Homo sapiens: one gene and its partners. The protein of the gene in region 1 purifies or fractionates together with the protein of each later gene. This does not show direct contact. Each region holds a gene or a part of one and is shown in the gene's direction. Other genes may lie near its edges. The genes, in order: SLC8A3, TAF6L, GDI2, EMC7, MKI67, CSGALNACT2 and TRAP1.

Region 1 (3,987 bases):
AACTCTCACAGGTAATACCAGTTTGGGAGACAGGACTTGAAGGCTATTGCTGCATTTCCATCCCCAGTATTCCCAGCTATTTCAAGCCATTTTTCAACGGAGTCTCCACCAGATGGTTTGGAGGACAGAGCAGCTATTTGTGCCTCCCATTGACATCTATTTTTCCAAGTGAGAGACTGCCCCATATGTTAGTGCAATATGTCACTGGAGGTGAAGCATCAGTTGTATTGGTGGGAACCTGCCGTTTGCTGTCCCCTTTTTCCTCATGCCTTTTCCTGCCTCTCTGATCTTTTCTAGGTCTCTGGCCTATCAGGAGGACAACTGGTGCTGCAATAGAAGCCAGTGGCTAAGTCTCGTGTATGGCGTGGTTAAGGTTGCAGCCTCTCACCTCTGCCTTCCTCCATTTTGGGCTGGTTACCTTTGTGCTCTTCCTGAATGGTCTTCGAGCAGAGGCTGGTGGCTCAGGGGACGTGCCAAGCACAGGGCAGAACAATGAGTCCTGTTCAGGGTCATCGGACTGCAAGGAGGGTGTCATCCTGCCAATCTGGTACCCGGAGAACCCTTCCCTTGGGGACAAGATTGCCAGGGTCATTGTCTATTTTGTGGCCCTGATATACATGTTCCTTGGGGTGTCCATCATTGCTGACCGCTTCATGGCATCTATTGAAGTCATCACCTCTCAAGAGAGGGAGGTGACAATTAAGAAACCCAATGGAGAAACCAGCACAACCACTATTCGGGTCTGGAATGAAACTGTCTCCAACCTGACCCTTATGGCCCTGGGTTCCTCTGCTCCTGAGATACTCCTCTCTTTAATTGAGGTGTGTGGTCATGGGTTCATTGCTGGTGATCTGGGACCTTCTACCATTGTAGGGAGTGCAGCCTTCAACATGTTCATCATCATTGGCATCTGTGTCTACGTGATCCCAGACGGAGAGACTCGCAAGATCAAGCATCTACGAGTCTTCTTCATCACCGCTGCTTGGAGTATCTTTGCCTACATCTGGCTCTATATGATTCTGGCAGTCTTCTCCCCTGGTGTGGTCCAGGTTTGGGAAGGCCTCCTCACTCTCTTCTTCTTTCCAGTGTGTGTCCTTCTGGCCTGGGTGGCAGATAAACGACTGCTCTTCTACAAATACATGCACAAAAAGTACCGCACAGACAAACACCGAGGAATTATCATAGAGACAGAGGGTGACCACCCTAAGGGCATTGAGATGGATGGGAAAATGATGAATTCCCATTTTCTAGATGGGAACCTGGTGCCCCTGGAAGGGAAGGAAGTGGATGAGTCCCGCAGAGAGATGATCCGGATTCTCAAGGATCTGAAGCAAAAACACCCAGAGAAGGACTTAGATCAGCTGGTGGAGATGGCCAATTACTATGCTCTTTCCCACCAACAGAAGAGCCGTGCCTTCTACCGTATCCAAGCCACTCGTATGATGACTGGTGCAGGCAATATCCTGAAGAAACATGCAGCAGAACAAGCCAAGAAGGCCTCCAGCATGAGCGAGGTGCACACCGATGAGCCTGAGGACTTTATTTCCAAGGTCTTCTTTGACCCATGTTCTTACCAGTGCCTGGAGAACTGTGGGGCTGTACTCCTGACAGTGGTGAGGAAAGGGGGAGACATGTCAAAGACCATGTATGTGGACTACAAAACAGAGGATGGTTCTGCCAATGCAGGGGCTGACTATGAGTTCACAGAGGGCACGGTGGTTCTGAAGCCAGGAGAGACCCAGAAGGAGTTCTCCGTGGGCATAATTGATGACGACATTTTTGAGGAGGATGAACACTTCTTTGTAAGGTTGAGCAATGTCCGCATAGAGGAGGAGCAGCCAGAGGAGGGGATGCCTCCAGCAATATTCAACAGTCTTCCCTTGCCTCGGGCTGTCCTAGCCTCCCCTTGTGTGGCCACAGTTACCATCTTGGATGATGACCATGCAGGCATCTTCACTTTTGAATGTGATACTATTCATGTCAGTGAGAGTATTGGTGTTATGGAGGTCAAGGTTCTGCGGACATCAGGTGCCCGGGGTACAGTCATCGTCCCCTTTAGGACAGTAGAAGGGACAGCCAAGGGTGGCGGTGAGGACTTTGAAGACACATATGGGGAGTTGGAATTCAAGAATGATGAAACTGTGTAAGTAACCTTCCTGTATTCTGCCCCTCCCTGACCCCATCTTTTGCCATCTCTTTCTGTCTTTCTGTACTGCACTTTACAACATTTCCTTGTGTTTGTGTTAATGTCAAACTTTGGTTCCATCACAGGTATGCAGGATCAGCAGACACCACTGGACAGGTTCTGCTTCCAAACTCTTCTTCAGTTTTCTCACTTTAAATTGTTTCTGGGCAAGGAATCCTGTGACAAGAGCTAAGGACACAAAACATTTTCTTCTCTGAAACACAAAATGATAGCTGGTGGAGCTGTGGGATGACAGAAGTTTTGTGATATCAGATTTTGGAGAATTCTTGTGACTAAGAAGGACTAGAGAACTGCTTGGGCCTCTTCTTCCTCCCTTCCTCATATGAAGGGTATCTATGAGCTTTGAAACCAATCCTTTCCATTCTGGGCAGCAATAGCCCATCAGAACATTCTAAAGAAAACAAGTGGCATTGGCTTTGTTCCCTGGTACTATATTGCCAGTCTCACTGTGTAACCAGATTCCAGGCACGTCTTCTTTAATTTGGAAATTGCAAAATTGATAGAAATTTAGCAATCTTTTTAAATGACCATAGACTATTTAATGGTGTGAGGCTTGCCCAGCCTAGTTGAATTGAGTCAGTATGGTTTGGATACTGGAAAGTATCTTGGAGAAGCAGAGCTCCCAGGGCAGTGGCTACTTGTCTTTAGTCACAGGTCTAAGCTCCAAAATCTGGTGAAGCAGTGAAGGAGAAACATCCTAGGAATTGTGGGAGGAAATATATCTTCTGTGTGGTCCTCTCTTTTCACAGTCTAGGACTCTCCTGAAGTACCTCTTCTTGGGCTACTGCCCCATTCAGCCCTTCAGAAACTGTGGGTATTACACTTCTGTCACCTCTATTACCCTAAGGCCTCTGCCCATTGAACCCTCTTGCAAATTGGTTATTCTGTCCTTTTTCCAGTTGGATAGCTTTAAAAGGGAAAGCAGAATGACTTTCCTCAGGATTTGTAGCTTATGAGAAAGTAGACTTTCTTGGGTGGCCTAGAAGGTTGGAGAAGACAAACGGGAACTTCCTCTGAATGACTGAACATATCCACAAATAATAAGCGTGGCAGGAGATGGTGTGAAGAGTAAAAGGAGCATATAGGAAGTTGTGTGTGTGGGGTGTCTGTTTCAAGAACCTGCTAATTATACCTTCAGTAAGAAATGAAGCCATACAACCTCTAGAAGAGGAGGAGGAAGGAACTCATGGAAAAGTGGGGAGCCATAGAAGCTAGGGAGAGGTGTCCTAGGAGTGCTTCTGCCCAGGTCCAGCCATGAGACAGAGCTCAAAAAGAGCTGGGCACTGCTGGTGACAGAACTGAGTGACCCGGGGGATCCTGCATCTGTTCTTACTCAATCCCTTCTTAATAATGTGACTTGGGGCAGGTCATTTATTGGTTCTGGAACTTAACTTTCTGATATGCAAACTGGGAATAACAATACTTTCCTTGCCTGGAGGCAAGGTCAGTCCTTTTTGCAGTTCCTTCCAGCTCTAAGATTTTCTGAACCATAGACATAAGCACTCAGTGTAGGTCATATTCGCACTTGCCAAAAATGGATCAGGGGATATTGTCTCCTGAAGGGAAATGGCCATTGACAAATTGATTTATTAGAGCTCTGTTTAGTCATTTTGCTGGGAAGGATAATCATTTGTTAACGTAAGTAGAAACCTGTGCCTTCTGGAGAATACTATCCATTTATATGTACTCTGGGGAGAGTGTTTATACATACAAATGAAGGACAGGGCTTCACTGGGAAAACAAACTCCATGGAATTTCACATGATTATCGCGATGTCAGTG
Region 2 (3,710 bases), on another chromosome or scaffold:
ACGGTGGCTAACGCCTGTAATCTCAGCACTTTGGGAGGCCGAGGCGGGTGGATTGCTTGAGGCCGGGAGTTCGAGACTAGCCTGGTCAACATGGCAAAACCCTGTCTCTACTAAAAATACAAAAATTAGCTGGGCGTGGTGGTGGGCGCCTGTAATCCCAGCTACTTGGGAGGCTGAGGCAGAAGAATTGCTTGAACCCAGGAGGCAGAGGTTGCAGTGAGCTGAGATTGAGCCACTGCACTCCAGCCTGGGCGACAGGGCGAGACTCCATCTCAAAGAAAAAAAAAAAAGAAAAAGAAACTGAAAAGTCTATTCCTCCACCTACTTTTTTTTCTCTGTATCAACTATGATTACTCTCATAAAAACCTAAGTGGTATTATATTAAGCATCTGGTTTTATAGATTGCCTTTCTCAGTTAAAAATGTTGGATGGCCGGGCGCGGTGGCTCACGCCTGTAATCCCAGCACTTTGGGAGGCTGAGGTGGGCAGATCACGAGGTCAGGAGATCGCGACCATCCTGGCTAACACGGTGAAACCCCGTCTCTACTAAAAAATAGAAAAAATTAGCCGGGTGTGGTGGCAGGCGCCTGTAGTCCCAGCTACTCGGGAGGCTGAGGCAGGAGAATGGTGTAAAACCTGGGAGGTGGAGCTTGCAGTGAGCCAAGATCGTGCCACTGGGCGACAGAGCGAGACTCGGTCTCAAAAAAAAAAAAAAAAGTTGGACATTCAGGTTGTATTCAGGGCCATATGCAGGTATATGTGAATGAGTTTCTGTAGGTTACATTTATAGAAATAGAATTGCTAGATCAAAGAATATGAACATTAAAATTGTAAAACATGAATAAGGTGATACACTGTCTTCCAGAAGAATACCGCATTCATGTTTTACAATTTTCTGGTGGATCCAATGCAGTCTGGGCCCTTCCTTTTAGGTTGCACTCCAGGACTTGCAGACGAACTCCAAGATTGGGGCACTCCTGCCTTACTTTGTTTATGTGGTCAGTGGGGTAAGTGACCAGGCTGGGACAGGGAGAATGTTTTATAAGGAAGAGATGACCCAGCAGGTGTAGGGCTCATGGCAAGTGCTGTCAGAATGGTGGGCTCCTGCCTGTCCCCTCATGTCCCTGTAAGCTACCCTCTTCTCCCAACAGGTGAAATCTGTAAGCCATGACCTGGAGCAACTGCACCGGCTGCTGCAGGTGGCACGGAGCCTATTTCGTAATCCGCACCTGTGCTTGGGGCCCTATGTCCGCTGTCTGGTGGGCAGTGTCCTCTACTGTGTCCTGGAGCCACTGGCTGCCTCCATCAACCCCCTGAATGACCACTGGACTCTGCGGGATGGGGCTGCCCTCCTGCTCAGCCACATCTTCTGGTAGCCACTGGGCCTAAACCTGCGGGTGGGATTGCTGCAGAGCCAAGTGGGTTGGGGTAAGGAAATGGGGCGAAGCCTCTGGCTTTGAGAGTCTATGAGAAGATGGGGAACCTTTTCCCTAGGAGCGTCCTAGCTGGTGTGCTGTGACACACTGGGATTCTGAAAATGGATTACAAATACGCCAAGGTATTGGTTCTTCAGCCCTCAGGTCCTAGGCCAGTCACCCCTGGCAGCCTTCTTCACTTAACCCCAGCACTCCCGAGTGTGCTGTACAGATGCTATTCTCTTTGTGTTGTCTTGTGCCCTGTTGGGTGGCACCATGCCTCATTCCCCTCCCTAACTGAATGGTGCTCCCACAGGACTCATGGGGACCTTGTAAGTGGCCTCTATCAGCATATCCTGCTATCCCTGCAGAAGATCCTGGCAGATCCTGTGCGGCCGCTCTGCTGCCACTATGGAGCCGTGGTGGGGCTGCATGCTCTTGGCTGGAAGGTGAGCACCCTGGCCTTTCTCACACAGCCGTAAGAACTCCCATTTGTGTTAGAAAAATAGTACTTGTGCATCGTTATCTCCAAAATAGTGTGTGCCTGCCACTGCCATGTATTGAGTTCTGGCCTTAGGCCAGGCTCAGTGATACTTGACTTTCTGAATGTAAATGTCTTATCCTTTCGAAAGTCCTATATGGCAGATACTGATGTCCCCACATTTTATAAATTCCTGCCCGTTCTATATTATCACATTAAGAAATACCTTCAATTCCTGTTGTATTGAGCATTTTACACATGAATAGATACTGAATTTTGTCATACCTTTTTAGCATCTGTAGAAATTATCAAATGATTATACGCTTTAAAAATTAGGTGTTGGCGCCGGGCGCAGTGGCTCACGCCTGTAATCCCAGCACTTTGGGAGGCTGAGGTGGGCGGATCACAAGGTCAGGAGATCGAAACCATCCTGGCTAACACGGTGAAACCCCATCTCTACTAAAAATACAAACAATTAGCCTGGTGTGGTGGCGGGCGCCTGTAGTCCCAGCTACTCGGGAGGCTGAGGCAGGAGAATGGCGTGAACCCGGGAGGCGGAGCTTGCAGTGAGCCGAGATTGCGCCACTACACTGCAGCCTGGGCGACAGAGCGAGACTCTGTCTCAAAAAAAAAAAAAAGTTAGGTGTTGCCACTGTGATAATATTAAGAGGGAGGATCTTTTTTTTTTTTTTTTGAGACGGAGTTTTGCTCTTGTCGCCCAGGCTAGAGTACAGTGGCATGATCTCAGCTCACTGCAACCTCTCCCTCTTGGATTTAAGCAATTCTTCCACCTCACCCTCCCGAGTAGCTGGGATTACAGGCACGTGCCACCATGCCCACCTAACTTGTATTTTTAGTAGAGAGGCAGTTTCATCATGTTAGCCAGGCTGGTCTCAAACTCCTAGCCTCAAGTGGTCTGCCTGCCTCGGCTTCCCATAGTGCTGGGATTATAGGCATGAGCCACCACGCCCAGCCGATTATGTGGTTTAATATGACAAGTTCTATTCTGTTGATATGCTAGGTGTATTAATGGATTCTTCTTCTGAACCACTTTTGTATACCTGGAATAAGTTCTATTTGTTGCTTTTGAGATTTTTGTTTTTTTGAGATGGAATCTTGCCAAGATGGCGCCACTACACTCCAGCCCGGGCGACAGAGTCTCACACTGTCGCCCGGGCTGGAGTGCAGTGGCGTGATCTCGGCTCACTGCAACCTCCACCTCCCGGGTTCAAGTGATTCTCCTGCCTCAGCCTCCTGAGTAGCTGGGACTTACAGGCACGCACCACCAGGGCCAGTTAATTTTTGTATTTTTAGTAGAGACGGGGTTTCACAATGTTGGCCAGGATGGTCTCAATCTCTGGACCTCGTGTTCCGCCCGCCTCGGCTTCCCAAAGTGCTGGGATTACAGGCGTGAGCCACCGGTGCCTGGCCATATATATATATTCTTAATTTTTTTTTTTTTTTTGAGACGGAGTCTCGCTCTGACACCCAGGCTGGAGTCCAGTGGCGCCATCTTGGCTAACTGCAACCTCCGCCTCCCGGGTTCACGCCATTCTCCTGCCTCAGCCTCCCGAGAGTAGCTGGGACTACAGGCGCCCGCCACCATGCCCGGCTAATTTTTTGTATTTTTAGTAGAGACAGCGTTTCACCGTGTTAGCCAGGATGGTCTCGATCTCCTGGCCTCATGATCCGCCCGCCTTGGCCTCCCAAAGTGTTGGGATTACAGGTGTGAGCCACCGTGCCTGGCCTATATTCTTAATTTTATCATCAATTTATATTGGATTTTTATCAGATGGTTTTTCTGCATCTTTTGA
Region 3 (3,987 bases), on another chromosome or scaffold:
GCTTTATTTATTTTCTCAGTCCCTCAAAGATTTTTTTTTTAATCTCCATTTAACATAGTCTCTGTGGGGTTAAAATCTGAGATGGGTTGTAAACCCAAGTTACATGACTACAAAGCTTAGTTCCTTTTGCTATACTGCCTTGTTTCCTACTTTTTTTGAACGTGGACACATAGCATTTCCACAGTGTGTTTTAATATATTGATTGTTTTTCTGCGTGAGGTTTGTTGAACACCTACGTATATGGATATGATGTGTACTGTGTCTTATGGGAGATAGATATCATCAATGACTTTAATCAGTGACTTATTAGACAATACTTACCAAAAAGGATTTTTTTCTATATTCAGTAATACTGAAAAGTTTAAAGAATAATACGATGTATAAAAAAATCTTCCATCAGAGTTCAGCAGTTAAAGTTTGCTGTATTTTTTTCATGTCTCTTTTTTTGTTACTGGTTTTGATCCATTGAAAGTGATAAGACATCATGAGGCTTGAGCAAAATATTTCAGCATTCATCTGCTAAGAATAACATTCTCCTGCATAAGCATAATACCATTATATCATATCCAGAACCATATTCAAATTTCCCAGTGGTCCCAGTAATCTCTTACGTAGCTGTTTGTATTTGGTATAATTTTCTCTTTATTCTCTTATTTATTTTTCTGGAGACAGAATCTTGCTCTGCCGCCCAGGCTGGAGTGCAGTGGCACAGTCTCGCCTCCCTATGGCTTCCACCTTCTGGGTTCAGGTGATTCTTCTGCCTCAGCCTCCCAAGTAGCTGGGATTAAAGGCGTGCACCACCATGCCTGGCTAATTTTTGTATTTTTAGTAGAGACGGGGTTCCACCATGATGGCCAGGCTGGTCTGGAACCCCTGACCTCATGTGATCTGTCTGCCTTGGCCTCCCAAACTGCTGGGATTACAGGCATGAGCCACCACGCCCGAGCGCTTTATTCTTTGTTGTTGTTGTTTGTTTTTAAGAGACAGGGCCTTGCCCTGTTGCCCAGGCTGAAGTGCAGCAGTGCGATCGTAGCTTGCTGTAGCCTTGAACTCCTGGGCTCAAACGATCCTCCTGTATCAGCCTCCTAAGTAGCGGGGCTAAAGATGCATACCACCTGCCTGGCTTATTTTATTTTTTGTAGAGATGGGGTCTCTCTGTGTTGCCCAGGCTGGTCTCAAACTCCTGGCCTCAAGTGATCCTCCTACCTTGGTTTCCCAAAGTGTTGGGATTATAGGTGAGAGCCACCATGCCTGGGCACCTCTTTATTTTCTTAATCTACAAATCTCCTCACAATTTTTTTCTTTTCTTAATTTTGTTTTATTTTATTTTTATTTTTATTTTTTTGAGACAGTCTTGCTCTGTTGTCCAAGCTGATGTGTAGTGGTGCAGTCTCGGCTCACTGCAACCTCCATCTCTTGGGTTCAAGTGATTTTCATGCTCAGCCTTCTGAGTAGCTGGGATTACAGGTGTGGACCACCATGCCTGGCTAATTTTTTGTATTTTTAGTAGAGATGGGGATTTCTTCTTGTTGGCCATGCTGGTCTCGAACTCCTCAAATGATCTGCCTGCCTTGGCCTTCCAAAGTGCTGCGGTTACAGGTGTGAGCCTCTGTGCCTGGCCTAGTATATTTCTTAGCTGATCTTCAATACAATGAGTAAGATTTCTTTTCTTTTTTTTCTCCCCAGATGTATTGAGGGAGTCATGAATTTTTTCTTTTTTTTTTTTTTGAGATGGAGTCTTTCTCTGTCACCCAGGCTGCAGTGCAGTGGCACGATCTTAGCTCAGTGCAACCTCCACCTCCTAGGCTCAAACGATTCTCGTGCCTCAGCCTCCCGAGTAGCTGGAATTACAGGCGTACATCATCACGTCTGGCTAATTTTTTGTATTTCTGGTAGAGGTGGGGTTTCACCATGTTGATCAGGCTGGTCTCGATCTCCTGGTCTCAGGTGATCTGCCTGCCTTGGCCTCACAAAGTGCTGGAATTACAGGCATGAGCCACCGCACCCAGCCAGAATTTTTATTGAATAAATACTTACTAATTTTGCTTATTCTTTTCCACCTTAGCAGTAGGATTCATGAGCTCAAGTGACTGTTCTCTAACTTTATAAGCTTTTTGAAATCTGAGCTTCATTTCAATTCATGTGAATTATAAATTAATTTGAGTATTCTTACCACAAAACATCATAAAAGAACAAAAGGACAATTTTGGAGGTGATGGATATGATTGGTACCTTATGGTGATGTTATGGGTGTACCTTGTGTCTAGACTCACCAAAATGTATGCAGGAAGTAGGCAGTTCTTTATGTATCAGTTATACCTCAGTAAAGCTCAAAAATTATAAATGAACTAGAACTAATTTTAATTATCTTTTCTGATTAGGAAGAATCTAAGGTTTATTTTGAATTCCTTACATAATACAAAAGCAAAATTAAGCCTTTGATAGCTTTTTATTTGGGAGAGAATGAATTTAGATGATTGCTATTTGTCAGTGACACCCTAGTTCTGCATATACAGTCCGTATAGAGAACTATACAGTGTCATTGACAAATAATCTTGTTTTATTTATTTATTTCTTGAGATGGAGTCTTGCTTTGTCACTCAGGCTGGAGTACAGTGGTGCCATCCCAGCTCACTGCAACCTCCACCTCCCAGATTCATGTGATTCTCCACCTCCCAGATTCATGTGATTCTCCTGCCTCAGCCTCTCGAGTAGCTGGGCTTACAGGCACACACCACACCCCGCTAATTTTTTTTTTTTTTTTTTTTTTTTTGAGATGGAGTCTCACTCTGTCACTAGGCTGGAGTGCAGTCACGCTATCTCGGCTCACTGCAACCTCTGCCTCGCATGTTGAAACGATTCTCCTGCCTCAGCCTCCCGAGTAGCTGGGATTACAGGCATCTGCCACCATACCTGGCTAATTTTTGTATTTTCAGTAGAGATGGGGTTTCACCATCTTGGCCTGGCTTTTCTTGTACTCCTGACCTCCTGATCCACCCGCCTCGGCCTCCCAAAGTGTTTGGGATTACAGGCATGAGCCACCATGCTTGGCCAATTTTTGTATTTTTAGTAGAGACGGGGTTTCACTATGTTGGTCAGGCTGGTCTCAAACTCCTGACCTCAAGGGATCCACCCGCCTCATGGATTACAAAGTGCTGGGATTACAGGCATGAGCCATTGCGTCTGGCCTTGTTTTATATTCTTTCTTTTCTGCTAGTGAAAAACCTTACTTCTGCCATATTTGTTAATTTTAACATTTATGAGTTTAGTAATTAATTTACATATATATTGGACCTTGCTAAAAATTTTATCTGATAAAAGATGAAATGCCCTTATACTTTACTAGCATGGTGGTGTTTAGTTATACTAAAAGCACTTAATAAAAAATATGTACATATTGTAATAAAAAATTAAATTTTGTTAACATTATGGCTATGTTTTTCCTTGCTTTTAGTTATACAAAAGATTTAAAATACCAGGATCACCACCCGAGTCAATGGGGAGAGGAAGAGACTGGAATGTTGACTTGATTCCCAAGTTCCTTATGGCTAATGGTAAAGAATTTCTAACTTAAATTTATGACAGTACTTTGATTACAATTTTAATATCAAAACTAACTTTTGACAGAGTACTATTCTGGGTATGAGGAACTGGATTTTGTTGAATGAAACAGCATGGTGAGTAACATGGTCCATTAGATGTCTGGAGTCAATAAGTTAGGAAAGGAAGGAAGGGGTTGTGACTTACTAGTAATTGGTTCTGGAGAAACAAATGATGCTGTGGCATAATACATAACAAGATTGTAAGCCTTTGGCACAGACTTACCTGTTGATGCTTATGACAGTCTTAAATAACTGGGCCTTTTGAAACAGCATTATTTTAATGTTTTTCTAGTTTGTAGGGTTTTAAAATTTTCACATTTTTTTAATTTTAGAGGATCTAAGTTTTCTTTTTCTTTTTTTTTTTTTGAGACGGAGTCTCGCTCTG
Region 4 (3,987 bases), on another chromosome or scaffold:
CCCATTGCCAGACTATAGATTAAAAAAAAAAAAAAAGGGAATAGATAGTTCCATTTGCAAACTATTTGTGTTAAATAACACTGTAACTCTGCAAAAAGATAGGTGGGTGGCACAACTATGAAGTGAGGTGTCTATAAAGTCCAAACATACATACAGAAAACTTTAATATTCTATAATAGTCCACCATAGTCAGACAGACAGCCCCTTGCTATCATCAGAACTGGCTCAGTAGAATTGCGGTGGTTGCTACTAGTGTTATTGTATAGACAACGTTTAAATCTTTAATTTTACCATTGGTTGTTAAGTGCAGTTTTTGTTCTATTAACTGTAAAGTGGGGGAAAAACATTTTCTGGATTTTTTTTTTCTGCAGGTTATGATGATGGTTCTTCCTTTATTGATATTTGTGCTTCTGCCTAAAGTGGTCAACACAAGTGATCCTGACATGAGACGGGTAAGATGATGGTCCAGCTATGGATTTTTTTTTTTTTAAGAGATAGAGCCTCTGTTGCTCAAGCTGGAATGCAGTGGCACAATCAGTTTGAGTGGCCTCAAACTCCTGGGCTCAAGCTATCCACCTGCCTCAGCCTCCCAAAGCACTGGGATTATAGGTCCGAGGCACCATGCCTGGCCCCACCTGTGGGTTTTTGAACCGTATTGTGATGTTTGCTCTGTCCCATCGTAGCTGGGTAGCTTAGTTTTTCTCAATTTTATTCTAGTTCCCAAGCCAAATTAATCTAGAGGTTGTATTAACATAGTATCATGTTTATGGCTTTTAATTAGTTGCTTCCATTAGACTAGATAAATTGTTAGTTCTGCCTGGCCTGGATCTCTTTATGTAGCTAAAACATCTTACTGCATCCTAGCCTCTTTGTGTGCCTTACTTTTTAAATAGCTGAAATGTACAATACTTCTGGTATGCTGAATCTAAATATTTTACAAAGTGATTGTTCCTGTGATCTGCCTTTACTTTACAAAACTCTCTTCAGAGTACATACTCAGTTTATGTGTTCAGACACACAGATAGACCAAGGGGGATGGATAAGTAGAAGAGTGACCTTTGAATTCTGTTCCACAAAACCATACTGGTTCTGCAGAGGGAGAGGATTTGCTAAGTAGGATGCTTCCAATTTAGTGCCACCACATTTTCTCTTTGAATATTGGCTTCTATTTGAACTCTTCATTTTTTCAAAAAACCATCATGCATTTTTCCGTTCAACCATCAACAAGTATCTTCTGAGTTTCAAGGTTCCCCATTTTATTTAGTATATAGATGTGGTGACATTTTATTCATTCCTGAGTAAACATTTATCAATTTCTAGGGTCTAGATACTGGAGATACAGAAATGAATTATAGGCCATACCTGTCATCAGTAGGCTCAGTCCCAGTTAAATGTAGAAAATAGAATGGATTTATCAAATATTCTTCTTGCTATCAGGGGATTTTGTGACTTTTTCTTTTCTTTTTTCTTAATAGAAATTTGTCTTATTTCTTAAAGAAATAAGGTAAATAAAAATGTTTGCTAAGGTAGTAGGTGATTATGTTCTGTGGAAGGTAATAAGGGGTATATTCAAAGCAGGAATGGCAGAAAAAGATTCATAGGAAAAGAAAGGTTTTTGATATTTCAAAATGTTTTATTGGTGAATGTTTGCATTTTTGCTTCAGTGTTAGACTGAAAGTAATACATCCTGTGCATTCCTTGTATATGTTAAGCCAATTAACTGTGGCATCAGTAGAAGGAAACATCAGAAGTCACATTTGATTAAAAGTTCATTCTGGCCGGGCGCGGTGGCGCAGGCCTGTAATCCCAGCACTTTGGGAGGCCAAGGCAGGTGGATCACCTGAGGTCAGGAGTTCACGACCAGCCTGACTAACATGGTGAAACCCCGTCTCTACTAAATACAAAAAAATTAGCCGGGCATGGTGGCGCATGCCTGTAATCTGAGCTACTTGGGAGGCTGAGACAGGAGAATCGCTTGAAACTGGGAGGCAGAGGTTGCAGTGAGCTGAGATCGTGCCATTGCACTCCAGCCTGGGCAATAAGAGCAAAACTCCGTTAAAAAAAAAAAAAGTTCATTCCTTGTGAAGTGCTTTGCACATAGTAAGCATCTTAAAAAGTTGATTCAAGAGCTTCAGAAGCTCTCTTCCTTGGCACTGCCTGCAGAGGTGGCACCATCTCCTACTTGGCATCATGGCTGCCCTCAGATCCTTTGTGAAGCCCAAGATCATCAAAAAGACAACTAAGAGGTTTATCTGGCACCAGTCAGACCAATATGTCAAAATTTAGCTTAACTGGCAGAAACCTAGAGGTGTTGACAACAGTGTTCGTAGAAGATTCAAGGGCCAGATCTTGATCCCCAACATTGGTTATGGGAGCAGCAAAGAAACAAAGTACTTACTACCCAGTGGCTTCTGGAAGTTCCTGGTCTACAACATCAAGGAGCTGGAAGTACTGCTGATCTGCAACAAATGTTACCGTGCTGAGATTACTCACAGTGTTTCCTCCAAGAACCACAAAACCATCTGGAAAGAGCAGCCCAGCTGGCCATCACAGTCACTAGTCCCAATGCCAGGCTCCACAGTGAGGAAAAGGAATCAACGGCTCTCATGCATGTTTTATTTGTGTTTAAATAAAACCACAAAAACTGAAAAAAAAAAAAAAAAAAAAGGGGAGCTTCAGAATTGAACAGATTCAAAAATAGAGTTGATATATGTTTGCAGGGACTCAAGAGCTGTTACCATATACATTTATTTCTTAATTATTGGGGCATGTTAACATACTTGATTTATGTTTACAATATTTCTTTCGCTAGCCTTATTTGTAAAAGCAACTTCTCCTTTAAAATTTAGGAATCAATTCTACCTTTGTGGGAAAAGCTCAAGCTAATATCCCAACAGTGTTCAATTTGAAATGGAAGCCTAGTGCTGTGCTGTGTGCCTATAGTCCCAGCTGCCCAGGAAGCTGAGGCAGGAAGATCACCTGAGCACTGTCTCCTAAAAAAAAAAAGAAAAGAAAAAAATGAAAGAAATGATAGATAATATAGTATTTGCTATCTTTTTCATGTATGAATGAACTAAAGTCAATTTTAAGTTCACTTTGAGAATGTCACTTAAAATTTAAATGAAGCAGATGTTACATTAATATTATATAACTATCAAACAGTACTTTATAGATTTTTGGCTCAATTAAAGGGGAGGACAAATACTCAAAAGTGCCAAGTCCTATCCTGTTTTGCCAATGACTTCTTTGTAACAGTGTGTTGCTTGCTTTAGAGTCTAATTGAAGTCATGCAAGCCATACAGCATTCATAGATTTACTACTGAGGCTTATAAATGAATTCTTAGAAATATTGCACTTATTTTCCAAACTGTACTGATACCTTGATATATAGTTAAAAATTAATATTCTGGTTATATGCATCTAAAGGAAGCATGAACTTAAAAATGTACTCATTAAAACAATAAGAAATCACTTTAATCAGAAAACATAAAATAAGAGAGGAATATGATCAAATATATTCAGTATCAGAAAAAAGTGTTCTTTATTAAGACAAGCAGAATCACACGAAAGGGAACATCACACACAGGGCCTGTTGTGGGGTGGGGGGAGGTGGGAGGGATAGCATTAGAAGATATACCTAATGTTAAATGATGAGTTAATGGGTGCAGCACACCAACATGGCACATGCGTACGTATGTAACAAACCTGCACGTTGTGCACATGTACCCTAAAACTTAAAGTATAATAATAAAAAAAAAAAAAGGCAAGCAGAATCAAACCCTAGGCAGTCATTTATTGGACATTTACTAAGAGTCAAAATGTCTAGTGGTATAAAGGAGATATGGAAAATAGTTACTAATGATATATAGGTGAAGTACTACTGAGTATGATGTTGCATCATTGCTCAGAACCAGTACCTTTCACTTGTTCTACTCCTTTACTTTTTCCTTAATAGGAAGTGTTAGGAGTTAAAAGACTCGAAGGATC
Region 5 (3,987 bases), on another chromosome or scaffold:
ACACAGGGCATGGCAACCTTTGGAGGAACCTTCTGAAGCAGTATTTTTACCTTCTATGATCATTTCAGCATCTAACTTTGCTTAATGATGACCCCACTATAGCACCAAATAACATTATTCTTAATTGTGCATGGCTCTTATAAGACAGATTTATAGACACATAAGTAGCCTCATGTCGTTCAGTGAATACGAAGCTAAATATTTAGTTTTTTACCATATTTTATGAGGCTGTAATACTCGATTGACATGAGACACTAATAGAATGTTTTTATTGTGTATGTTTTTATTTCAGGAGGAAATGTGTTCTTCAGTGCACAGAATGCAGCAAAACAGCCATCTGATAAATGCTCTGCAAGCCCTCCCTTAAGACGGCAGTGTATTAGAGAAAATGGAAACGTAGCAAAAACGCCCAGGAACACCTACAAAATGACTTCTCTGGAGACAAAAACTTCAGATACTGAGACAGAGCCTTCAAAAACAGTATCCACTGCAAACAGGTCAGGAAGGTCTACAGAGTTCAGGAATATACAGAAGCTACCTGTGGAAAGTAAGAGTGAAGAAACAAATACAGAAATTGTTGAGTGCATCCTAAAAAGAGGTCAGAAGGCAACACTACTACAACAAAGGAGAGAAGGAGAGATGAAGGAAATAGAAAGACCTTTTGAGACATATAAGGAAAATATTGAATTAAAAGAAAACGATGAAAAGATGAAAGCAATGAAGAGATCAAGAACTTGGGGGCAGAAATGTGCACCAATGTCTGACCTGACAGACCTCAAGAGCTTGCCTGATACAGAACTCATGAAAGACACGGCACGTGGCCAGAATCTCCTCCAAACCCAAGATCATGCCAAGGCACCAAAGAGTGAGAAAGGCAAAATCACTAAAATGCCCTGCCAGTCATTACAACCAGAACCAATAAACACCCCAACACACACAAAACAACAGTTGAAGGCATCCCTGGGGAAAGTAGGTGTGAAAGAAGAGCTCCTAGCAGTCGGCAAGTTCACACGGACGTCAGGGGAGACCACGCACACGCACAGAGAGCCAGCAGGAGATGGCAAGAGCATCAGAACGTTTAAGGAGTCTCCAAAGCAGATCCTGGACCCAGCAGCCCGTGTAACTGGAATGAAGAAGTGGCCAAGAACGCCTAAGGAAGAGGCCCAGTCACTAGAAGACCTGGCTGGCTTCAAAGAGCTCTTCCAGACACCAGGTCCCTCTGAGGAATCAATGACTGATGAGAAAACTACCAAAATAGCCTGCAAATCTCCACCACCAGAATCAGTGGACACTCCAACAAGCACAAAGCAATGGCCTAAGAGAAGTCTCAGGAAAGCAGATGTAGAGGAAGAATTCTTAGCACTCAGGAAACTAACACCATCAGCAGGGAAAGCCATGCTTACGCCCAAACCAGCAGGAGGTGATGAGAAAGACATTAAAGCATTTATGGGAACTCCAGTGCAGAAACTGGACCTGGCAGGAACTTTACCTGGCAGCAAAAGACAGCTACAGACTCCTAAGGAAAAGGCCCAGGCTCTAGAAGACCTGGCTGGCTTTAAAGAGCTCTTCCAGACTCCTGGTCACACCGAGGAATTAGTGGCTGCTGGTAAAACCACTAAAATACCCTGCGACTCTCCACAGTCAGACCCAGTGGACACCCCAACAAGCACAAAGCAACGACCCAAGAGAAGTATCAGGAAAGCAGATGTAGAGGGAGAACTCTTAGCGTGCAGGAATCTAATGCCATCAGCAGGCAAAGCCATGCACACGCCTAAACCATCAGTAGGTGAAGAGAAAGACATCATCATATTTGTGGGAACTCCAGTGCAGAAACTGGACCTGACAGAGAACTTAACCGGCAGCAAGAGACGGCCACAAACTCCTAAGGAAGAGGCCCAGGCTCTGGAAGACCTGACTGGCTTTAAAGAGCTCTTCCAGACCCCTGGTCATACTGAAGAAGCAGTGGCTGCTGGCAAAACTACTAAAATGCCCTGCGAATCTTCTCCACCAGAATCAGCAGACACCCCAACAAGCACAAGAAGGCAGCCCAAGACACCTTTGGAGAAAAGGGACGTACAGAAGGAGCTCTCAGCCCTGAAGAAGCTCACACAGACATCAGGGGAAACCACACACACAGATAAAGTACCAGGAGGTGAGGATAAAAGCATCAACGCGTTTAGGGAAACTGCAAAACAGAAACTGGACCCAGCAGCAAGTGTAACTGGTAGCAAGAGGCACCCAAAAACTAAGGAAAAGGCCCAACCCCTAGAAGACCTGGCTGGCTTGAAAGAGCTCTTCCAGACACCAGTATGCACTGACAAGCCCACGACTCACGAGAAAACTACCAAAATAGCCTGCAGATCACAACCAGACCCAGTGGACACACCAACAAGCTCCAAGCCACAGTCCAAGAGAAGTCTCAGGAAAGTGGACGTAGAAGAAGAATTCTTCGCACTCAGGAAACGAACACCATCAGCAGGCAAAGCCATGCACACACCCAAACCAGCAGTAAGTGGTGAGAAAAACATCTACGCATTTATGGGAACTCCAGTGCAGAAACTGGACCTGACAGAGAACTTAACTGGCAGCAAGAGACGGCTACAAACTCCTAAGGAAAAGGCCCAGGCTCTAGAAGACCTGGCTGGCTTTAAAGAGCTCTTCCAGACACGAGGTCACACTGAGGAATCAATGACTAACGATAAAACTGCCAAAGTAGCCTGCAAATCTTCACAACCAGACCCAGACAAAAACCCAGCAAGCTCCAAGCGACGGCTCAAGACATCCCTGGGGAAAGTGGGCGTGAAAGAAGAGCTCCTAGCAGTTGGCAAGCTCACACAGACATCAGGAGAGACTACACACACACACACAGAGCCAACAGGAGATGGTAAGAGCATGAAAGCATTTATGGAGTCTCCAAAGCAGATCTTAGACTCAGCAGCAAGTCTAACTGGCAGCAAGAGGCAGCTGAGAACTCCTAAGGGAAAGTCTGAAGTCCCTGAAGACCTGGCCGGCTTCATCGAGCTCTTCCAGACACCAAGTCACACTAAGGAATCAATGACTAACGAAAAAACTACCAAAGTATCCTACAGAGCTTCACAGCCAGACCTAGTGGACACCCCAACAAGCTCCAAGCCACAGCCCAAGAGAAGTCTCAGGAAAGCAGACACTGAAGAAGAATTTTTAGCATTTAGGAAACAAACGCCATCAGCAGGCAAAGCCATGCACACACCCAAACCAGCAGTAGGTGAAGAGAAAGACATCAACACGTTTTTGGGAACTCCAGTGCAGAAACTGGACCAGCCAGGAAATTTACCTGGCAGCAATAGACGGCTACAAACTCGTAAGGAAAAGGCCCAGGCTCTAGAAGAACTGACTGGCTTCAGAGAGCTTTTCCAGACACCATGCACTGATAACCCCACGACTGATGAGAAAACTACCAAAAAAATACTCTGCAAATCTCCGCAATCAGACCCAGCGGACACCCCAACAAACACAAAGCAACGGCCCAAGAGAAGCCTCAAGAAAGCAGACGTAGAGGAAGAATTTTTAGCATTCAGGAAACTAACACCATCAGCAGGCAAAGCCATGCACACGCCTAAAGCAGCAGTAGGTGAAGAGAAAGACATCAACACATTTGTGGGGACTCCAGTGGAGAAACTGGACCTGCTAGGAAATTTACCTGGCAGCAAGAGACGGCCACAAACTCCTAAAGAAAAGGCCAAGGCTCTAGAAGATCTGGCTGGCTTCAAAGAGCTCTTCCAGACACCAGGTCACACTGAGGAATCAATGACCGATGACAAAATCACAGAAGTATCCTGCAAATCTCCACAACCAGACCCAGTCAAAACCCCAACAAGCTCCAAGCAACGACTCAAGATATCCTTGGGGAAAGTAGGTGTGAAAGAAGAGGTCCTACCAGTCGGCAAGCTCACACAGACGTCAGGGAAGACCACACAGACACACAGAGAGACAGCAGGAGATGGAAAG
Region 6 (3,987 bases), on another chromosome or scaffold:
TTAGGTTCCCCTCCTTGTGTGGCTCAGAAACTAAGGCAGTAAGCTGGCAACCACTTGTTTCTTGTTTCTCTGGGGATCACTGTCCTTTGTTACCTGATGTTAAATATCTTGAAAATCATTGTTTCATATTTTGGGTTTGTTGGCAGGAAAAGTTGTTTGTTTGTTTTTGGTTGTTTCAAGACAACCAAAGAGAGCAAATCTGAGAGTAAATCTGGCCCGTTACTTCATCTTGGTCGTAAAAGGAAGTCAGTTTTTTAAGCAGTTTTAGAGAGTTAGAATTGATGGCTTGTAAGGTTTCTTTCAATCCTGAGATCTTTGGCTTCATATTACATACCTTTAACAGCTTATTTTCCCATCTTCACATTATCCTTTTCTCTCCTCAAAACACTTAACTATCTGCATTTGTGCTTAGAAGGCTTGTTGGGATTAACTCTGGGCTGTGAATGAACCGTATTCATGATACAAACACATTTCATAGAATGATGACAATCAAGATGTAACAACAGAAAAATGTTTTCTATAATATTCTTAATATATTTATATGATAGAACAGCTATAATGTAATCTTCTAGATTATGGCCAAAGAGTTTCTTTCGGGAACTAGGCAAATAAGATTTTAATTGAAATCTTTCATTTTTAATAACCACAGAATTATGCAACTTTTACATTCTGAAGTAATTACAGTATCCTTTCATTTTATTGGAAAATATTCAACTGTAATATTAAGTAGGATATCTCAAAACCTGTATTTCCCTTAAAGGGAAGAGGAAGAAAAATGACCTTAGCTTTTTAACACTGCCACTGATAATTTCCATTCTATTTTATTGAAAAGTAAACCTTCAGTAGTGACCTATTGTCTGAGTTATAGCTCATAGTCTAAAATACATTGTGTATATAAAGAAAACATATGAGGTACCATATTAATAAAAGATAGTGGTAGTTCTGTTACCCAGTTTCACTTCAGTTTTGAGTATAACATGCTTAAGTATGTATATCTTTATTAATTAAAGTATGTATATCTTTATTATACAAGATTATGTCTCCACATTTTCAGTTCTTTTTCCTAATAAATGGGCTAGTAATAGTTAAAACAGATACCGCTAGGTTTATCTTTTAAATAATGAAATTCAAGTGTTTTCTTATGCTAGGGATTATGGTTTTGAGGTATGGTTAAGTCCTGGAAATAATACTAGTTATTTTTTGATTAGATGGTATTTCTTAAAGCCAACTATTTTTTTTCTGTTTTTTTCTACATCACTCAAACAAGATTTATAATCAGTAAGAGAGATGCTGTAATAGTAAAAGACTCCCTTGGCCAGGCGCGGTGGCTAATCCCAGCACTTTGGGAGGCCGAGGCGGGCGGATCACGAGGTCAGGAGATGAGACCACGATGAAACCCCGTCTCTACTAAAAATACAAAAATTAGCCGGGCGTGGTGGCCGGCGCTTGTAGTCCCAGCTACTCGGGAGGCTGAGGCAGGAGAATAGCGCGAACCCAGGAGGCGGAGCTTGCAGCGAGCCAAGATCGCGCCACTGCACTGCAGCCTGGGCGACAGAGCAAGACTCTGTCTCAAAAAAAAAAGGACTCCCTTGTAGTGAGTTAAATTTTTCAAGATACTTGGTTATCATTTCGTTTACTAAAATAATAAATGACTAAGGAGAGTTAAGACCATTATTTGTGGTATATTGGCCATAAGAAGTTTTCTTCTGTCCTATGTTTTATACAGACATGTTACCAAAAAAAAAAAAATACGCATTGCAGCATTTGCCACAGAAAGCATCCAGGTTTTTCTACTCATTAAAAAAGTGGCTAGGACTGATAACCTGTAGTGATCTTCCAGGTTTTGCTGCAGTGAGAAAACCATTACTGTTAAAAACCTGCTGTCATATCACATTATCCTTCTCAACAAGCACTTTGTTACAATGGAAGTTCTCTTTGCAGTGGAGTCCTCCTTGCCTCCCTTGTCCTAAGTTAAACCTCTATTTTTAGAGTTAAGAATCATTAAAGACATGGAAGAGTTCGCACAACTGGTTGTGGCATGAACGATAGCATGTAATTTTATAAATGTATAAATGGTTTTTGAATTTTTTTCTCTGCTGATAAGGATGATTAAATTCTTCATGTTTTTTCTTTATATAGACTCCAAACCTTTCTAGACTTGTAGGAAATCTGTTGATGCATAATACAGTGGAAAGAATTATGTGATCTAATGTGCAAATAATCTACTGGAGGACATTGGATATAAAAATGTTTTCTTAATGTGTTTTTCAGATGTCTGTGAGCTTTTGAAGTTGTTCTTTCCCCCACTTAATTTTAAGTCTCCTAGATTGGCTGAGCTGAGCAGTAGAAATTAATGAGGTAGAATGCTTGAGTTGAATAAACTGGGAGAAAATCTCTCTCTCCAGTAAACCGTTATTACTGTAACAGAAACAGTTTCTATAAACTCAGTTCCCAAATGGTCATAAGCTTTAGTTGGGAAATGGTGCGGTAATTGAAATACTATGTTAATAAAGAGTTATAGGCAATATAATTTTCAAATAATTAGAGAACAGTAGAATATATGTAATACAGACTATGCTGACGTAATTTTAATGTTTCTTTGATTCAAGTTATAGCTGTGTAGACATAATAGTTAAAAGTATTATACATAGTTTATTGTTTTTTAAGGTATTTTAAAAAATTCTCCCAGGCCAGGCTCAGTGGCTCACACCTGTAATCCCAGCACTTTGGGAGGCCAAGACAGGCAGATCACCTGAGGTCAGGACCAGCCTGGCTAACATGGTGAAACCTTGTCTCTACTAAAAATACAAAAATTAGCTGGGAGTGGTAGGCAGATGCCTGTAGTCCCAGCTACTCAGGAAGCTGAGATGGAAGGATCACTTGAACCCAGGAGGCAGAGGTTGCAGTAAGCCAAGATTGTGCCACTGCATTCCAGCCTGGGTGACGGAGTGAGACTCCATCTCAAAAAAAAAAAAAAATTCTCCTAGTATTTACTGAATATTCTAAATTATATTAGTACCTCTCATAGTTCTCTGCATGTAGTAGTCACGTAGCTAAGTTTACTGAAGCCACAAACAAATTTGATATCCTTAAGGGAACAAAATTCTGATTGATTCTGATCTGTGTCTTTCAGAAAAATCACTACCAATATAATGGATTTTATATATCAGATTGCTTTATTCTGGATATCATGGTAACAATACAGAAAGTATACATAATTTCCCATTTCTGCAAGTAGTCATGACTGCTGAAGAAAGAAAAACTTAAAGCTACGGCAGAATTATTTTATGGAAATTCTGATTTTGTTTTTAATTTTTGATAACTTTTTACTAAAGGTATGAACACACAAAGAGCTTATTTTGTTAGGCAAATACACATTAATAAGAATGCCTAGAAGAGGACTGATTCTTCACACCCGGACCCACTGGTTGCTGTTGGGCCTTGCTTTGCTCTGCAGTTTGGTATTATTTATGTACCTCCTGGAATGTGCCCCCCAGACTGATGGAAATGCATCTCTTCCTGGTGTTGTTGGGGAAAATTATGGTAAAGAGTATTATCAAGCCCTCCTACAGGAACAAGAAGAACATTATCAGACCAGGGCAACCAGTCTGAAACGCCAAATTGCCCAACTAAAACAAGAATTACAAGAAATGAGTGAGAAGATGCGGTCACTGCAAGAAAGAAGGAATGTAGGGGCTAATGGCATAGGCTATCAGAGCAACAAAGAGCAAGCACCTAGTGATCTTTTAGAGTTTCTTCATTCCCAAATTGACAAAGCTGAAGTTAGCATAGGGGCCAAACTACCCAGTGAGTATGGGGTCATTCCCTTTGAAAGTTTTACCTTAATGAAAGTATTTCAATTGGAAATGGGTCTCACTCGCCATCCTGAAGAAAAGCCAGTTAGAAAAGACAAACGAGATGAATTGGTGGAAGTTATTGAAGCGGGCTTGGAGGTCATTAATAATCCTGATGAAGATGATGAACAAG
Region 7 (3,987 bases), on another chromosome or scaffold:
GGTGGAGGTGTCCCCTGATGTGGCGACGGTGCAGCTGGGTACCCTGGCTGCTGCTGCTGCTGCCACCAGGGTCAGGAAATGGAAGGCCAGGCTTCTGGGCCTCTGGCACCTTCCAGGCACATCCTTACCCTCCCACCAGTGCTGTGCTGTGCTCTGAAGGGCTCAGCCTCACTGCTGTGTGAAGGTGCAGCCCAGGGAGTGGCAGGAAGAGGGCGTGCACACACTGTCTCCCCTCAGAGGATGTTGGGGGCTGGGGAGCCACAGACAGGTGGGACAAGCCAAGGACTCCGATCCCGTGGGTGGGGAAGTGGGTGGTCTCAGTGTCTGTTGAGGGACTATTCATCATGTACTGGATATCAGTCTCCAAATACTATGCTACAGGGGCCAGTCGTTCAGTTAATCCAATAGTGGATGGCTGAAAAACGAAACATTTGTTCCATAAACATTTTTTGTCCATTTTTTATTGAGATACAACTTACATAGCATCAGATTCACAGAATTCACCTTTTAACACGTAAAATTCAGTGGCATTTAGTGCATTCACAGTGTGGTGTGGCTGCCTCCACTGTAACCCCAGAACATTTCATCCCAGGAGCCCATCCCGTGCTGGTGTCCCTTCTCCCCAGCAGCAGGAGGAGGGTGACCACGTGTGTGGGGTCCCAAGGAGGCCGTGTTCTGGTTGTTTGCCGACTTCGGCAGCTTCTGACACAGGCCTCTTCATTCTCCTTTATCTTCATTTGAGTTAACAGCACACAGGTAAGAGTCAGAGACATTTCTAGGTCTTTGTAGGTGTGCACGTGTGACATGTCTTATCAATGCAGACCCACCATGTGTGCAGGGGTGGCCTGGGCCCTGCTGGTTGGGTGTCCAGCTCCTTGCTTTTCCCTCTTTCTGTTTTCCCCCTGCGTCCTTCCAGCTGCAGCTCCCATGAGCTCTAGAGGTCACAGCTGCGTTCAGCTGATGGGGAGGAGGGCAAACCCCTCCCCTAAGGGCCCTTCTCCAAATCCCACTGAAACCCACTGGGCAAAGCCAGTCTCTGCCATAGCCAGCTGTGAGGAGGGCCGGGAACCGTGGACTTCACCCGTGTCCGTGTGCCCACCAGAGACTGACTCTGTCACTGAGGGCAGAGGGAAGACGCTGGGTCCAGGCCGGGCTCTGCTGTTGGGTGGGGTCCCCTCCCAGGGCGTGGTGCGCGTAGCTCCCTGGAGAGCCCCTGGGCCACCTGGGGCAGGAGGTGCTTCCTAAGCCCCCAGAGCTCCCAAAAGGGGCCTGATGGGCAGAGCAAGGCCTGCTCTCGGACAACCCCCGAGTCCACTACCGTCCCTCGGGTCAGGGCCAGCCTGGAGTGCCAGGAGGCCATGGGCATCGGAGGGTTTGCGCCCAGTTAGTTGGGCAACATTGAGCCCATGGGCCTGGAATAAGTGGTGACCTGCCCCGTCCCTTCTAGGAGGACATAGCAAAGCTGCTGCGCTACGAGTCCTCGGCGCTGCCCTCCGGGCAGCTAACCAGCCTCTCAGAATACGCCAGCCGCATGCGGGCCGGCACCCGCAACATCTACTACCTGTGCGCCCCCAACCGTCACCTGGCAGAGCACTCACCCTACTATGAGGCCATGAAGAAGAAAGACACAGAGGTGGGTGAGCGGTGGGTGGGGCGGGCTCCGGGGGCTGCAACCTGGGGAGGGTCTTGACCTTCTCAGCTCTGTGCTGGGTGAACCTGCCCAAGACTCCGGGCAGGGCTGCACAGTGGGTCAGGGTCACGGGCACAGAGGCCGGACCGACTGTGACGGCTGTTTCCCACTTGGAGGTCACATGTGGTTTTTTTTGTTTGTTTTTTGTTTTTTTGAGATGGAGTCTTGCTCTCTCGCCCAGGCTAGAGTGCAGTGGTGCGATCTCGGCTCACTGCAACTTCCGCCTCCTGGGTTCAGGTCATTCTCCTGCCTCAGCCTCCTGAGTAGCTGGGACTACAGGTGCACACCACCACACCCAGCAAATTTTTGTATTTTTAATAGAGACGGCATTTCACCATGTTGGTCTCGAACTCCTGACCTCATGATCTGCCTGCTTTGGCCTCCCAAAGTGCTGGGATTACAGGCGTGAGCCACTGCACTCAGCCACATGTGGATTTCTTTATGCGTGGAGTGCTTCTGCCTTGAAGGCAGTCAGAGCCTTCCTTAGACCCAGGTGTCGTAGTAACTGTCATGCAGGCCTAGGAACCCCAACTGCCCCGGTGTTCCCCAGTGTGGCCCGCTTGGCTCCCCCAGCCCTCCTGCCGCCCTCATCCTTTCTTCTGTGGTGGCTGGAGGCCCCCGGGGTCTGATGGAGCTGCTCTTGGCCACCTGCAGGTTCTCTTCTGCTTTGAGCAGTTTGATGAGCTCACCCTGCTGCACCTTCGTGAGTTTGACAAGAAGAAGCTGATCTCTGTGGAGACGGACATAGTCGTGGATCACTACAAGGAGGAGAAGTTTGAGGACAGGTCCCCAGGTCGGCATCCCCTGCTCTCTAGGCGTGGGGCTGGTTTCCACTCCCCGCACGCCTCTCCTGCCCCGCAGCGAGGGCTTCCTTTGGGTTTTCGTCAGTTGACCTGGGCTCAGCCACCCCCGAGAAGAGCCTTGTGGGAGCACCCTGGTGACTGGAGGAAGGTGCCTCCTGGTTTAGATATCAGGGGTCTGTCCAGTGCTCCTGCCACGGTGGCTTCTGGAGCTGGCCCAGCTTCTTGAGAGGCTGTGTATTTTTTTAAAGCCCTAACCAAGTTGTATGGGCCTCAGGCAACCTGAAGCATCCTTTGAGGTTTTACTTTTAGATGAAAAGCATCTTGCTAGCTTGTGTCTCCATCCTGGTGGGAGAGGAGGTGGGAGCTGGAAGCATGCTGCGTGGCCCCCATGGAAGCCGGGGAGTTGGGATGCAGGCCTGAGCTCCCTGTCGCCTGCTCTTCCGCAGCCGCCGAGTGCCTATCAGAGAAGGAGACGGAGGAGCTCATGGCCTGGATGAGAAATGTGCTGGGGTCGCGTGTCACCAACGTGAAGGTGAGGCTTTCCCGGGGATGGACCACCACTTGGCCGCAGTGTCCCTAACAGGCTGGCCAGCTGGTGGCTCCCAGTACCTGGCCCGTTGGGTGTCCTTCCAGCAGCAGCAGAAGCCCTTGGTGTCAGGTGGAGACCCTGTGGGTCCCTGCTCGGCACGTGTTGCTCGGGAGTGCCGCTGAGGCAGGAAGGCCGTGTCTTTCTCCCAGCCCTGCTCCAGAGCAGGTGTGAACTGAGAACTGAAAAACCAGCATCCTGAGTGGGAGCTGCAATGGCTGAGGACGTGGGGGTTCCAAACAAGGGACATGCTACCCCAGCCCTCAGGAGCTCACATGCTCACTTGGGTGCTTAGTCGGGGGTTTTGGGTGGGCTTCAGAGAGCTAAGACTCCCCCCACCAACCTGTCTAGCTCAGAGTGAGAAATGAGCGTCCCATGCATGGTCACTTGGAGGAAGGGGCCTCATGCAGGGTGGGCTGGCATGGAGCAGAGGACGATGGATTCGGGCAGCTCCTGGAGGCAGCAGCGGGGCACCAGGGTGGTGGAGCCCCTCGGGCACAGTATCTTTGCGTGGGGCATCAGCTCAGGGCCCACAAGTTAGTGGGTAATGGGGAGGGAGCAGCGCTGGTCCAGGGGAGTCCTTGAGACCCCGCCTGCTACCTCGTGGTCTGGGTGACCTTCACCCCTGGTAAGATCCTGCCAGCCCTCTCACATTGGGAACCTCTATCACCCTCAACCCCGGGCTTTGCTCACAGGTGACCCTCCGACTGGACACCCACCCTGCCATGGTCACCGTGCTGGAGATGGGGGCTGCCCGCCACTTCCTGCGCATGCAGCAGCTGGCCAAGACCCAGGAGGAGCGCGCACAGCTCCTGCAGCCCACGCTGGAGATCAACCCCAGGTGAGGCCACGCTCCTGGCTCTTCCAGCCTGTGGGATTCCCCAGAATCCTGTGTGTGGTGTTCTTTT

Evidence for each region.
Region 2: the proteins of SLC8A3 (region 1) and TAF6L purify together in Homo sapiens (affinity purification with mass spectrometry; one large-scale study listed by BioGRID and IntAct). This does not show direct contact.
Region 3: the proteins of SLC8A3 (region 1) and GDI2 purify together in Homo sapiens (affinity purification with mass spectrometry; one large-scale study listed by BioGRID and IntAct). This does not show direct contact.
Region 4: the proteins of SLC8A3 (region 1) and EMC7 purify together in Homo sapiens (affinity purification with mass spectrometry, with the first as the bait; one large-scale study listed by BioGRID). This does not show direct contact.
Region 5: the proteins of SLC8A3 (region 1) and MKI67 purify together in Homo sapiens (affinity purification with mass spectrometry; one large-scale study listed by BioGRID and IntAct). This does not show direct contact.
Region 6: the proteins of SLC8A3 (region 1) and CSGALNACT2 purify together in Homo sapiens (affinity purification with mass spectrometry; 3 studies listed by BioGRID and IntAct, with this or other methods). This does not show direct contact.
Region 7: the proteins of SLC8A3 (region 1) and TRAP1 purify together in Homo sapiens (affinity purification with mass spectrometry; one large-scale study listed by BioGRID and IntAct). This does not show direct contact.

The regions. Positions count from the first base shown.
Region 1 is NC_000014.9:70,164,795-70,168,781, reverse strand, and holds part of SLC8A3 (sodium/calcium exchanger 3 isoform D precursor), read left to right. Parts: intron 1-297; 5' UTR 298-359; coding exon 360-2,143; intron 2,144-2,271; coding exon of another isoform or gene 2,272-2,341; exon of another isoform or gene 2,342-3,987. UniProt on the Homo sapiens protein: Mediates the electrogenic exchange of Ca(2+) against Na(+) ions across the cell membrane, and thereby contributes to the regulation of cytoplasmic Ca(2+) levels and Ca(2+)-dependent cellular processes.
Region 2 is NC_000011.10:62,780,962-62,784,671, forward strand, and holds part of TAF6L (TAF6-like RNA polymerase II p300/CBP-associated factor-associated factor 65 kDa subunit 6L), read left to right. Parts: intron 1-932; coding exon 933-1,007; intron 1,008-1,151; coding exon 1,152-1,372; intron 1,373-1,494; exon of another isoform or gene 1,495-1,537; coding exon of another isoform or gene 1,538-1,731; coding exon 1,732-1,864; intron 1,865-3,710. UniProt on the Homo sapiens protein: Functions as a component of the PCAF complex. The PCAF complex is capable of efficiently acetylating histones in a nucleosomal context. The PCAF complex could be considered as the human version of the yeast SAGA complex.
Region 3 is NC_000010.11:5,796,330-5,800,316, reverse strand, and holds part of GDI2 (rab GDP dissociation inhibitor beta), read left to right. Parts: intron 1-3,454; coding exon 3,455-3,554; intron 3,555-3,987. UniProt on the Homo sapiens protein: GDP-dissociation inhibitor preventing the GDP to GTP exchange of most Rab proteins. By keeping these small GTPases in their inactive GDP-bound form regulates intracellular membrane trafficking.
Region 4 is NC_000015.10:34,084,518-34,088,504, reverse strand, and holds part of EMC7 (endoplasmic reticulum membrane protein complex subunit 7 precursor), read left to right. Parts: intron 1-371; coding exon 372-452; intron 453-2,138; exon of another isoform or gene 2,139-2,647; intron 2,648-3,987. UniProt on the Homo sapiens protein: Part of the endoplasmic reticulum membrane protein complex (EMC) that enables the energy-independent insertion into endoplasmic reticulum membranes of newly synthesized membrane proteins.
Region 5 is NC_000010.11:128,105,729-128,109,715, reverse strand, and holds part of MKI67 (proliferation marker protein Ki-67), read left to right. Parts: intron 1-292; coding exon 293-3,987. UniProt on the Homo sapiens protein: Protein that associates with the surface of mitotic chromosomes and acts both as a chromosome repellent during early mitosis and chromosome attractant during late mitosis.
Region 6 is NC_000010.11:43,151,764-43,155,750, forward strand, and holds part of CSGALNACT2 (chondroitin sulfate N-acetylgalactosaminyltransferase 2), read left to right. Parts: intron 1-3,133; 5' UTR 3,134-3,386; coding exon 3,387-3,987. UniProt on the Homo sapiens protein: Transfers 1,4-N-acetylgalactosamine (GalNAc) from UDP-GalNAc to the non-reducing end of glucuronic acid (GlcUA). Required for addition of the first GalNAc to the core tetrasaccharide linker and for elongation of chondroitin chains.
Region 7 is NC_000016.10:3,661,920-3,665,906, reverse strand, and holds part of TRAP1 (heat shock protein 75 kDa, mitochondrial isoform 1 precursor), read left to right. Parts: intron 1-445; exon of another isoform or gene 446-1,447; coding exon 1,448-1,633; exon of another isoform or gene 1,634-2,344; coding exon 2,345-2,483; exon of another isoform or gene 2,484-2,939; coding exon 2,940-3,025; exon of another isoform or gene 3,026-3,261; intron 3,262-3,774; coding exon 3,775-3,920; intron 3,921-3,987.